Linked DNA regions of Homo sapiens. The protein of the gene in region 1 interacts with the protein of each later gene in a pairwise test. Each region holds a gene or a part of one and is shown in the gene's direction. Other genes may lie near its edges. The genes, in order: PRDM6, NEK6 and ABI2.

The links.
Region 2: the proteins of PRDM6 (region 1) and NEK6 interact in binary tests that used the Homo sapiens proteins (3 or more experiments, as listed by UniProt).
Region 3: the proteins of PRDM6 (region 1) and ABI2 interact in binary tests that used the Homo sapiens proteins (3 or more experiments, as listed by UniProt).

Annotation. Positions count from the first base shown.
Region 1 is NC_000005.10:123,092,241-123,095,840, forward strand, and holds part of PRDM6 (putative histone-lysine N-methyltransferase PRDM6), read left to right. Parts: intron 1-3,600. UniProt on the Homo sapiens protein: Putative histone methyltransferase that acts as a transcriptional repressor of smooth muscle gene expression.
Region 2 is NC_000009.12:124,255,881-124,259,702, forward strand, and holds the start of NEK6 (serine/threonine-protein kinase Nek6), read left to right. Parts: upstream 1-2,068; 5' UTR 2,069-2,205; intron 2,206-2,360; exon of another isoform or gene 2,361-2,481; intron 2,482-3,329; exon of another isoform or gene 3,330-3,614; intron 3,615-3,822. UniProt on the Homo sapiens protein: Protein kinase which plays an important role in mitotic cell cycle progression. Required for chromosome segregation at metaphase-anaphase transition, robust mitotic spindle formation and cytokinesis.
Region 3 is NC_000002.12:203,429,198-203,432,695, forward strand, and holds the end of ABI2 (abl interactor 2), read left to right. Parts: 3' UTR 1-1,803; coding exon of another isoform or gene 1,804-1,808; 3' UTR 1,809-2,972; downstream 2,973-3,498. UniProt on the Homo sapiens protein: Regulator of actin cytoskeleton dynamics underlying cell motility and adhesion. Functions as a component of the WAVE complex, which activates actin nucleating machinery Arp2/3 to drive lamellipodia formation.

The DNA of each region.
Region 1 (3,600 bases):
GCAAGTATTTTAAATTATGAAATAAAAAGATTTTTAAACTGCCTTGGAAAAGGTATGTCTTACTGCTAAGTGAAATATAGCCATTGCAGGCTGAGAATGCTTCATCAATCTTGCAATTTCACTTCTGAATTAAATATATGCTAGAGAAGTCACCAGCAGTACACCCCAAATCCCTGGCTGTGTGCTGAGCTCCTGTACTGTTTACAATGCAGTCTGGAAAATTAATACGTTTTCACCAGAGAAAACAGACTAATTCGAGAAAGAATTAGGATAGATTCCTAATTAATATATGGGTATTGAACCAGTTTATTGCCTGGGTAACTTTTTTCTCTGGTTGGAGAAAATAAATTACAATTTTATTTAAATAATTTATATTGTGTTAATCTTCTGGTATCTCCTTTTGAGCCAACTGGATTGTTTCAGTGTTTGAAGTGCAGGGGAAAAGACAGAAGGGAAAGAAAATTAGATTGTCCTATTAGAGTTACACCCCACGTTGCTCACTAATTAAAGGGCAATTGAGAAAGAAAATAGAAAGCTGAGATAGCGCTGTGTAATGCTGGGAGACGAGATCTCCCATTCTTCCAGGAACTTCTCTGGACAAGCAAGCTTAGGCACTCATTTGAAGCCATGGGATGTACTTTTACAAAGATGAAACGTGATTGAGTTTAATCTAAGTAGGGGCTTAAAACAAGTCAGAAATGCAAATAGTGGGAAACTCGTTTCCTTTGGCAGGGGAAGTTGGCATAATGGTTATTGAAAGGCTGTGAAAAACAGAAGCTTCTCCTCATTCTCGAGTTGTATGTGAGTGGAGGTGGAGTGAAAGGAAGGGTGGAGGCAGAGGGAAGCTCCTATTAATTTATCATGTATAGATTTCCCTAGTTTTTCTTTTAGTTTTTTTACCATCTCCCTCTAAAAGAATTCTGTGAAGTGACCACTTAGCATTGCTTCATTTTGTCACTTCGTACTTAAAAGGATAGGTATTGAGTTGTTTTCTCTTTTTCTCACAAGGCGAAATAAAAAGGGCGGGATGCGGGGGTGCCTCCTTACTTCTCCCTTCCCTTTAGCAAAGTAACTTTTTGCCTAGGATCAGCAATACATATCATTGCTCTGTAAGAAAAGAACTTAGGAACACTAGTTTCACCTTGAAACTTTATTGGCATCTATGGTAAATGTCACAGTGATGGGGCTTGTAGCTCTCTTTCGTTCTAAAAGATTTTAAAACAGCAGAAACTGCAAGCTACCCGGGTGAGCTTTTCCAGTATGTTCCTAACTCCGTATCAGTTTACCCTGTGACTGAAGTACAGTTTCCACCGAAGCTCTGAATGCTTTGCTGTTGCTGCTGCTGCCGCCTTCTCTTAAAAATCAAGTGGTGCCTCCTGCGATATAAATGGGGGATGGGGCCCTTCCTTCCCCGTCTAATATTACTGCCCTCATTTGCTGCTGGGCTGCCTGAAGCCATTGATTTAGTCAGGCTCCATCGGAGTGGCCTCTTCCCGGGTTCTGGGAGCTGGTGCGTTGCCTGCTCTTGAAAAGTAGAGAGAGACAGTCACAGGGCGCGCCTGGCGTTTCTGAGTAGCATCCCGGCTGTTCTCTCAGCACAGCCCATTAGTTTTTCAGGCCTTTTTTGTAAAGATGTGCTTCCCTAGGACCTGGGAGGGAGGCGGGAACTGAGCCACTTTGGGTGTCTCGGGGGAGAGTTGGACCACTTTGCAAATTCCCCAGTTGGGGGAGGGGTCTCTGTCCCCTCCCGATTTACTGGAACCCTCCTGCGCAGGGAACAGGCTGGAAACAGCGCCGGTGTGTGCATGGGTGTGGGAGCGGGGCTTGAGGCTTCCTTGTTGGGAACACCAGGCTTTCCAAGGGTTTAGGGAGAGGGGCTGGGGAGAGAAAAGGGAGTCTGGGCCTAACACTGGTTTGTCCGGTTGCTTGCTAAGGGGTCAAGGAAAGAGACAAAGGAGGGCGAGTGTTTTCTGACCTTCCCTAATCCCTTCCCACCCAGGTGGAAAACGCAGGTCCTGTTTGGGCAACTTCGAGCCCAGTGGCACACCAGCAGGCTTTTTGTGCAACCGAGGAACATCCACTGCGCCCCTTCTGCCCTGCGCCTCCTCTGTCAAAGACCAGCGAGCGCCTTAGATTGCAGACCTGGTCCGGGTGGGAGGGAGCTTTGGCTTCAGTGCGTGGGCTTTTGTGTTTCTCTCTCTCTCTCTCTCTCTCTCTCGCGTGTGTGCAAGCCCAGCCTCATCCCATAACACACATGATTTAGCTATTTTACATCTTTCGTTATCTAGCGCCCTGAAACCGAACATACAGCCATATATTAGATTGAGGTTAGAAGAGGTGGCGACTGTTTATTCAAGGTGATAAAATGGTCCATCAGCAGTAATCTCCATCGATATGTGCCACCAGGAGATGAAGGATGAGGGGACAAGCCACAATTAATTGCCCTATAGTTTTGTAGGAGAGAGTGGAGCCAGCCCAGACCCGCTTCGATCTCCTCTCGCGGCTCCTATTCATCATCTCCGCATTGTATATGGCAGCCTCGCAGGGGCAGGGGCCGGCGAGGTTTATCTCTGCGCAATATTCTCTCACCCTCACAAACTGGCGCTCCCATTTAATTTATTAATACAGTCATCGGAAGACAAATAAGACCCACATTTTCTCCCTCCCACCTTCTTGCTCTCTTCTTTTTGTCTCTCCCTCTTGGTCCCAGGGTCAAGCCCGCAGCCAGGCAGGGCAGAGAACGCCCAGAGCTTTTGCGATTCGCGGGGAGCTTTAAACTCGCGTAGAGGGAGAGTTCCTGAGAGAATTCCCAGGAGCTGGGCCGCCCCGCAGGGTCGAGACTGAAATCAATTGGCTCCCCTTCCGGCGGCCAGGCAAACCTGCCTCGCCTCTGGATCTGCTTCTAGACCCGCTCCCGGGGCTTGGAAGACCCCTGCCGGGTAGAGGAGGAGGGCCGGGTGGGTGGCGGGGTGCAGTGGGGACGTCGGATCGTGGGTGGTGTCGGCGGCCACGCCTCATGTCAGAAGAGAGCCTTTCGTGGGCAGGAGCGGGGTGGGACCTTCAAAACTCAGCCTTCGGCGCTGAGGCCTGGGCGCCCCACCCCGCCCATCGCTCCCTTTCAGCCATCCCATCTAGCCTATAGCTCGAGAAGGCAGTGGGGGGACCGCAGGCTGGAGCCCCGGGGGCGTGAACCCCACGCGAGAAGTTCGGGCCCGGATGCTCTGCCTGCCCGCCCTCTGCCCGGCTCCCCAGCCCCCACGCCCCTCCCCGCCTAGGGCGCACGCGGCACTGCCAGCAGGCGGCACTCCCGGGTCCTAGTCGCCGGGCTGGGATCGATGGGCGCCGGCCCCTCGGGTCTCGGCCTGCGAGACTGAGGGCCGCGACCTTGGCGGCGGTAGGGGAGGATTTACAGCCGGGGTGGATAGTGGCGCCCAGGCGGGGAAGCAGGCTTTTCACCTACTCCTTGCTTTCCTATATGCAGGGCGGGTGAGAGCCAACGAAGGCGTCGGGCAGGTACTGGGGAGTGAAGATGTGATGTAGCTCTCACTCCCCACGCGCCTACACATGACTGTTGGCCTCTCCACACACCAAAAGCCCGGA
Region 2 (3,822 bases), on another chromosome or scaffold:
GCCATTCTCCTGCCTCAGCCTCCCAAGTAGCTGGGACTACAGGCGCCTGCCACCATGCCCGGCTATTTTTTTGTATTTTTAGTAGAGACAGGGTTTCACCGTGTTATCCAGGATGGTCTCGATCTCCTGACCTTGTGATCCGCCTGCGTCGGCCTCCCAAAGTGCTGGGATTACAGGCGTGAGCCACCGCGCCCGGCCCAAACTTCTTATCCTTGAAATGGCAGATATTCAGTGTCTTCCTCCCACCCCATCCCTCCCCCTTGACTGAAGCCCCAAGAAAGGGCCATATTTTGTTCACTCCTTTATCCCAGTGCCTAGAAAAGTACCTGGCCCATGGAAGGTGCTCATAGATGTGTCGGGTGAACCAATGACTGAACTAATGTTTGCTGCATGAATATGGCCAGTATCACAAATCCTCTAGTAACACTGCAATACGCTGTCTCAGAACTTCGATTTCTTTCTATTATTTGTTGCAGTGTTTATTTCTTCTATTTAACTTTTCAATCTGTCTGACATTTATTGTGGTGTATATCATGGGAGGCAAGGCTGTAAACAGATCTCCAGCTAAACGGCTAAACAATTTGCAGAACAATCCATTTCCTCCCCATTGGTTTGTGATGTCTGCATTTTCATCCACAAGAGCTGGGACCAGGCCCGCTCCTGTGGGCCAGCTGCTGCCTCGTCTGCCCTCTTGTTCCAGAAGCCCAGGGCTATGCTGTTCCTGAGGCAGGGCTGCCTAGTGATTGGCCACACAGGCACTGGAATTAGACAATCTGCCGTGCACTTTCCAGCTCAACCACTTACCATCTGGGTGACTTTGAACAAAAGAATTTGCTTTTTATTGTTGTTGTCCAGGTTGGAGTGCAGTGGTGCGATCATAGCTCACTGCAGCTGCTAACTCCTATGCTCAAGAGACCCTCCCGCCTCAGCGTCCCGAGTAGCTGGGACTGCAGGCAGGCACTACCACACCCAGCTAATTCTTACATTTTTCTGTAGACATGGGGTTTTGCTATATTGCCCAGGCTGGCCTCAAACTCCCAGCCTCAAGGCATCCTCCCACCTCAGCCTCCCATAGTACTGGGATTACAGGTGTGAGCCACCGCACCCAGCCTGAAATTTCATTTCTAAGCCTCAAAGCCCATCTGTAAAATGGGCACAAGGGTAACGTTGGCACACGTGGTGGACGCTCCGTTGGTGTCATTATTACAGATCACGGCCAGTTGAAGCACTTCCACTCATTTGGCAAACAGAAGCCAGACGGGCATTCACCCTGTGCCCAGTACAGTGCTGCGCCCAAGCAGGCAGTCAGTGTCCCTGGCTCCAGCCCTCCTGGGGTGCAGCACAGTTTTGAATGTGGAGGGGAGGCAGCAGGGGTGGAAACAGCCCAGCCAGGAGCGGCCGCTCTCGGTGCGGGGAGGAGGTGAAGTGAGAACTGAGCTGCTTGGGTCTCAGGGAGGCTCTGACTTCTAGAGGGGGCGTTCAACATTCTTTAGTGGGGACTTTTACTACTTCCAGAAACCTCTGCACATTGGCTCTTGCTGGTCCCCCGGGGGCCACAGGAAGTGGGAGCTCCAGATGAAGAGTCGCTGGCACTTTGAGGGCAGGGGGCAGGGCCTTCCCCTCATCGGAATACTCTTGGAGCCTACTTCAGTGCCTGCATTCAGCTGGTGCACAATAAGTGCTTGTTACTGTGCCAATTTCAGTATGACTAGGGCTGTGGTAGGAGCAATGCTAGGCGATGGGGAATCCGAAGACGCACAGGAGTCCAAGGGTTGGCTGACTGCAGACCCTCATCATAAGTCTAGAGCCGGAGAAGATGGGGAGACGCCGGCCTGCGCCCTGTGAGTCTGGGCCTCAGTCTTCCCATCTCTGAAATGGGGAAGGGGTTCCTCGGCCGAGCGGATCGGCCGCAGAACTCGGCGGAGTCGAGGGGTCCAGGCCCAGGAAGGACGCCGCCGGGGCGCCCCCCGCCCCTCAAGCTTGCGTGGCGGCAGCGCGCACGAGCGCTGGGGGCGGCGCGGCCCCGCGGCGGGGAGGGGCGGGCGCGCGGGCGCGCGGGCCCGCGCAGGCGGTGGCGGCGGCGGCGGAACCGAGCTGACGGGCGTGCGGCCGCTGCGCCGCAAACTCGTGTGGGACGCACCGCTCCAGCCGCCCGCGGGCCAGCGCACCGGTCCCCCAGCGGCAGCCGAGCCCGCCCGCGCGCCGGTGAGTCGCCTGGGGCTGGGGCCGGGCCGGTGGGGCCCCGCGGCCCGGAGAAGGGCGGGGGCCGGGCGGCGGGGCCGTCACCCCCAGCCGGGCCGAGGGCGGGCGCGCGCCCACGGCTCCGCGGGGGAGAGCGGGAGGCGGGCGCGAGTGTGGCCGCGCGGGGCTGAGCGTGTCGGCGGCCGGGCGGGCGGGGGCGGCGTGTCCGCGTGTCCCGGGGTGTGCGCGTCCCCGGCGGGTGTGCGTGTGCACCCCGGAGCGTCTGGTGGCGTTGTTGGGGTGAGTGCGTGCGGGGACGCGGGCATGGCTCCCCGCTACCCACTTCCCGAGTGGGGACGACGGGCGGAGGAGTGTGCCGGGCGCCGCAGGGAGTACGTGCGGGTCTCAGGGAGTGTGTGTGTGCACGTGTGTGCATTCCAAAGTGATTTGTGTGCAAGCACATGCGTGAGCCTAGAAGGGCGAAAGTATGCCTGTGTGGGTGTGAGTATAACGAGTGTGCAGGGCCGTGCGAGCGTGTTTATTACTGAGGTTGAGGGGCCGGCCCCCTTTGCGCCCACCAGGCCTTTGCACAGTGATGGCCCCCGAGCCAGGGAGCCCGTGGAGAGAGAAGCGGCCTGGCATGGGCTGGGGGTCGGGGCTGGGCCTGATCCGGTGAACCAGGGGCCAGGAGGGCAGACTCAGAGCCTGGCTGGGCCTGACAGAGGCAAAGGTCTTAGAGCCAGGCTGCGGCAGGGCCACTGGCAGGACCCTCTCTGCATACACAGGCTGGGCGAGCGGAGGCTGTGGTGGGCCCCTCGGCCGGGCACCCGAGGACGTGTGTTTTCCTAAATATCCTCCAGGCTCTCCTGTCTTTGTTCTTGTCTCTCTCCAGCCAGGCCTGGGGGGCTGACCCTAGACTTGCCTGTGTATGTGGGGGCCTCTCTGCCTGCCCTGCTAAGTAGACGGATCTTTTGATTTATTTATACCTCTCCTAGGCTCCAAGTGTGAATCCCAGGACAGTAACAAATTGATCACAGCGGGCTTGGGACACCAGCTTCCGAGGTCTGTCCTTGCAGTTTTGACTGACAGGCTTTTGTGTGTGTGCGTGCTCTCTAACTGTTGAAAATCTTTGCAGCTGAAAGTCTTAATTGCTTTAAGGCAAACTTTAGAAATTCCAGAGCTCCCTAGTTGGTCTGACTTTTCCAAATTCAGCTTGCCTTTTTTGGGGGAAAATGTCGCCTTAGTTTGGTGTACAGTACGTGCAGGCAGGTCTTGGAGGCACGTTTAAAAACCCTGTCGTTAATGGAAGAAGAATTTCATTGAAAGGGACGCAGAGCCGTCTGGAAGCGCCTGCCCCGGACTCAGCGAGTTTGGACTCAGCGAGTTTGAGCTTACCGAATGAACTTTGGACGTCTTCTTTTAGCAAACAAAACCTGGAAGGAAGCAAAAAAGACCCACATTCTTTTTCTTTTTTCTCCTGAAAATGAAAAAAAGAAAACACCTTCTGGGTTTGCTGGAAATGCCCCCTCTCCTTCCCCCATCAAGGCCAAGCCCTCGCTGCGTCCCCCACCCCCAAATAAAATATGCCTGTGGGGAGCCGTGGAATGAGTCACTCCCTGGCAGAGAGCCTGACGGGCAAAC
Region 3 (3,498 bases), on another chromosome or scaffold:
TTCCACTTCGTGCTTTTCTTAGGTCATTTCTACATCCCTTATTCCTTGTTTTCCTGCAGTGTAATGGCCCTGAATGTCCTCTGAGCCTTCAGCTCCATTATGGACCCAAACTAGACTATACTTGGATAAGTTAAGCTCTTCTTCGTGTACTGGTCTATAATTAGAAAAACTGTTTTAAATTAGATGTTCCCATTATTTATTTAAACAGCTTTTTGCTGAGAAAGCTTAGTGGATTAATGAGGCAGAGGGTGTTTTGAAATCCAATAAATAGTTCCCACAGGCTGGGTGTGGTGGCTTATGCCTGTAATCCCAGCACTTTCGGAGGCCGAGGTGGGTGGATCATGAGGTCAATAAATTGAGACCATCCTGGCCAACATGGTGAAACCCCATCTCTACTAAAAACACAAAAATTAGCTGGGCGTGGTGGCGCACACCTGTAGTCCCAGCTACTTGGGAGGCTGAGGCAGGAGAATCACTGGAACCTGGGAGGCAGAGGTTGCAGTGAGCCGAGATTGTGCCACTGCACTCCAGCCTGGTGACAGAGCGAGACTCCATCAAAAAAAAAAAAAAAAAGTTCCCACAGCTCACCACTACAGAAGCAGGGAAGACAACTATGCAGAAAACAGAGTTAGTGGCGGTCAGCAGGAATGCAGCTGGTCTTTTGGACCCCTACGGGATGGGGGCAGTGCAGAAGACACTGGTGAAGTCCTTTATACTGAAGACCTGTGGTTGGGAGCAGGGGTAGTCCATGGGTCTGCTGATTTTTTTTCCCTATTTAGTACTAATGTGTGTGTGATCTTTGTTTTACAAACAGTACCTTTTGGGTTTTCTGCATATTTTATAATTTTTGTACAGTTTTGAATTCTATAGATTGTCTTGGAAGGATACTGTGTGATGGGTCAGGCACACAGTAATTGGAGACTTTTAATGTATGTAATATTTCATAGATTGCATGCTATTAATCATCTGTGAGGGTAGTATTTTTTGTTTTATTGTAAGTTTCCCTCTTTTTTTATAAATTAAAAGATGGTTGGTATTAGGAATTTCAAATGAATGCAGAAAATCTTACATGCTGTGTACTATTAATATTATAACAGACGATCCAAGTCCAAAATCTGACCAATAAAGCAACCATTTTATCAAGATAGAGGGATTCTAATGGGAGAGGGGATTCTTCCCTCCTGAAGTTTGTGTGTCCAGTCCCCTTAAAAAAAATGAATAGTTGTCTTTTCTTGTCATATTAATACTCGAAAGTCCATGGTGGTATTAATGAAAGTACACTTTATTGTTGCCTTTGAACTTACGGCCAAGGCAATAAATCAGAAACAAAAATAGTGCCAATGTGTCAAAATCGACATCTGAGAGATTCAGCCTCCCATTTGGAATAAATATGAATCTTCTAAGCTATCTTGTTTAATATTTTCCATCATTTAGCTACTTCCTATCTCCCTCAGAGGCGCCTGCTGTTCCCATTTTAGAGTTGACAGTGGCCTGCTAATTTTGCTATGTTCCTAAAAGTTACTGGGTGTGAGACATTTTCATCCCCTCCTTTTTCCTACTGCTGGTGTTTATTATCCAGCTAGACAATATTTTATGCATATTTACCGTGATGTCTGGACCGTACCTGTGCTCCTTGGCAGTTTATGTTGAAGATAACTAAAGATTTTTCTCTTTGGGAGGCATCAAAATGATGGTAGTTTGCTTTTATCTTTTTATGTTCATTTTCTTTTAGTAGGTGACCTTTCTGCATTAAGAACTGTTTTTATCTTTTACTACCTTTTCTTTTCTCCTTTGTGGAGACAGCATGACATGTCCTGAAGGTCACCTTTGCCTTTGAAAAAGGTTTGATGGAGGAATTCACAGGTGACTGACAAGTCTTTGAAAAGAATGGGATCTGCTCACTTCTGGTCTTTTTGGCCGGGAACTCCTGATTGGTGTTAAGGTGGTAATTTCCCCCATATAAGATTTAGAATCACTGAGTTTGAGCTAGATGAAATTTTTAAAATTTCTGGTTGTCTCATTAGACTGATGAGGTGAGTTTTCTTCTTCATATGAACAGCTAGTTAATAACAGCAGAGTTCTCACTCAGTGCTCAGTACTTAATTTTCCACTGCACCACAACTGTCTTAACTAAATGTGCTGTATTTTTCTTTAAAAGTTAAGAGTTCTATTTGGTGTTTTCAGGAATATACGTGAAAAGACATGCCATGTTTTGGTAAATACCATCAGAGTTGTGTAAAGGCGTGTACTAAGTGCAATCTTAATTTGTGGAAATAATCTTCATTTACCCCTCCTAAAACTACACTCAGTATAAACACTTTCCCATAAGGTGTGTGCAGTAAAAATGTTATATTACTCCAACACTGGCAGGAGCACAGCACAGCAGCCTTATTGGAGAGAGCCTTATAAAAGTGATTAAATGGAGGCATTGAGCTCATTACCTTTAAGTTTACTTTGTGCTGACCTTTGTTCCTGTTTTGAGAATCTCATATAATTATTAAAAAAAAAAAACAATTAAAACGAAACGGCGGGGCCTAGCTGTGTATAAATGATCCTTGCTGAATATCTTAAGGTTTTTTGTAAGAAAAAAGAAAAACCAACAAAAAAAGCTTATTTTCACATTAAAATGAAACCTCTTTTGCAACTTAAGAATTCTATGGAAAAGCAGTTTTTATCATATTTTGTGTCCATGCACCATTTTTCTTAAAATGGCTTACAAAAAAGAATGTAAACAATTTGTGATCTGGCCAGTTGTACTTTTAGCTCCCAGAGGGAGAGTTGGTGGTATTATGAGTTGAGTAAAAACCATCCAGGGGAACTTGAGGGAGCAGTCTGTTGCCAGTAATGTTCCTTGTGTGCCATTAAACCACCTCCAGATGAGTGGAGGAACATCACTTTTTAATTTTTTAATTGTATTTGGAATTGTTGCCGTGTACTAAGAACTTGACCTAAATAAAATCCCACAAAGTATATTCAGGTGTCTTGTTAACTTATTTATATAAATAACCTCTTTTTCTAAGGTGGTATCTTGAGTTTACGTGTTAGGGATAATCTGACTTTTCTGTTGCTCTAAACCAGGGAGCTGCCTTTTATTACTGAAGAAGTCGTCTTTTTAAATTTTCAAAGATTTAAAATGTTGAGCTTTAAATTTGATCTCAAGTTTCTTCCCTGAAGACAGCTGTTCTAATTAAGAACTTTCTAATCCTGTTTTTGCTCCACTCGCACCTGGGGTTTTCTTACCACTTTTCTCCAAATCTAATTCTGTTAATGTACAGTTTTTTTAATTCAACAGACAAACACTGAAGATGGGTGTTGACTAAAAAATATTGCAGACTGGTCAGAAGTGAATCTAAAAGACAAACCACTAACTAGCCTGTGCTTTGTTGCTATGAGAGCCTAGATTATAAAAGAATTTTCTAATGATGTATCTGAGGGTAGCAAGTAAGTTTGTCTTCACAATACCCAAAATGATGTTTCAGCTTTTCTCACTTTTCAAGC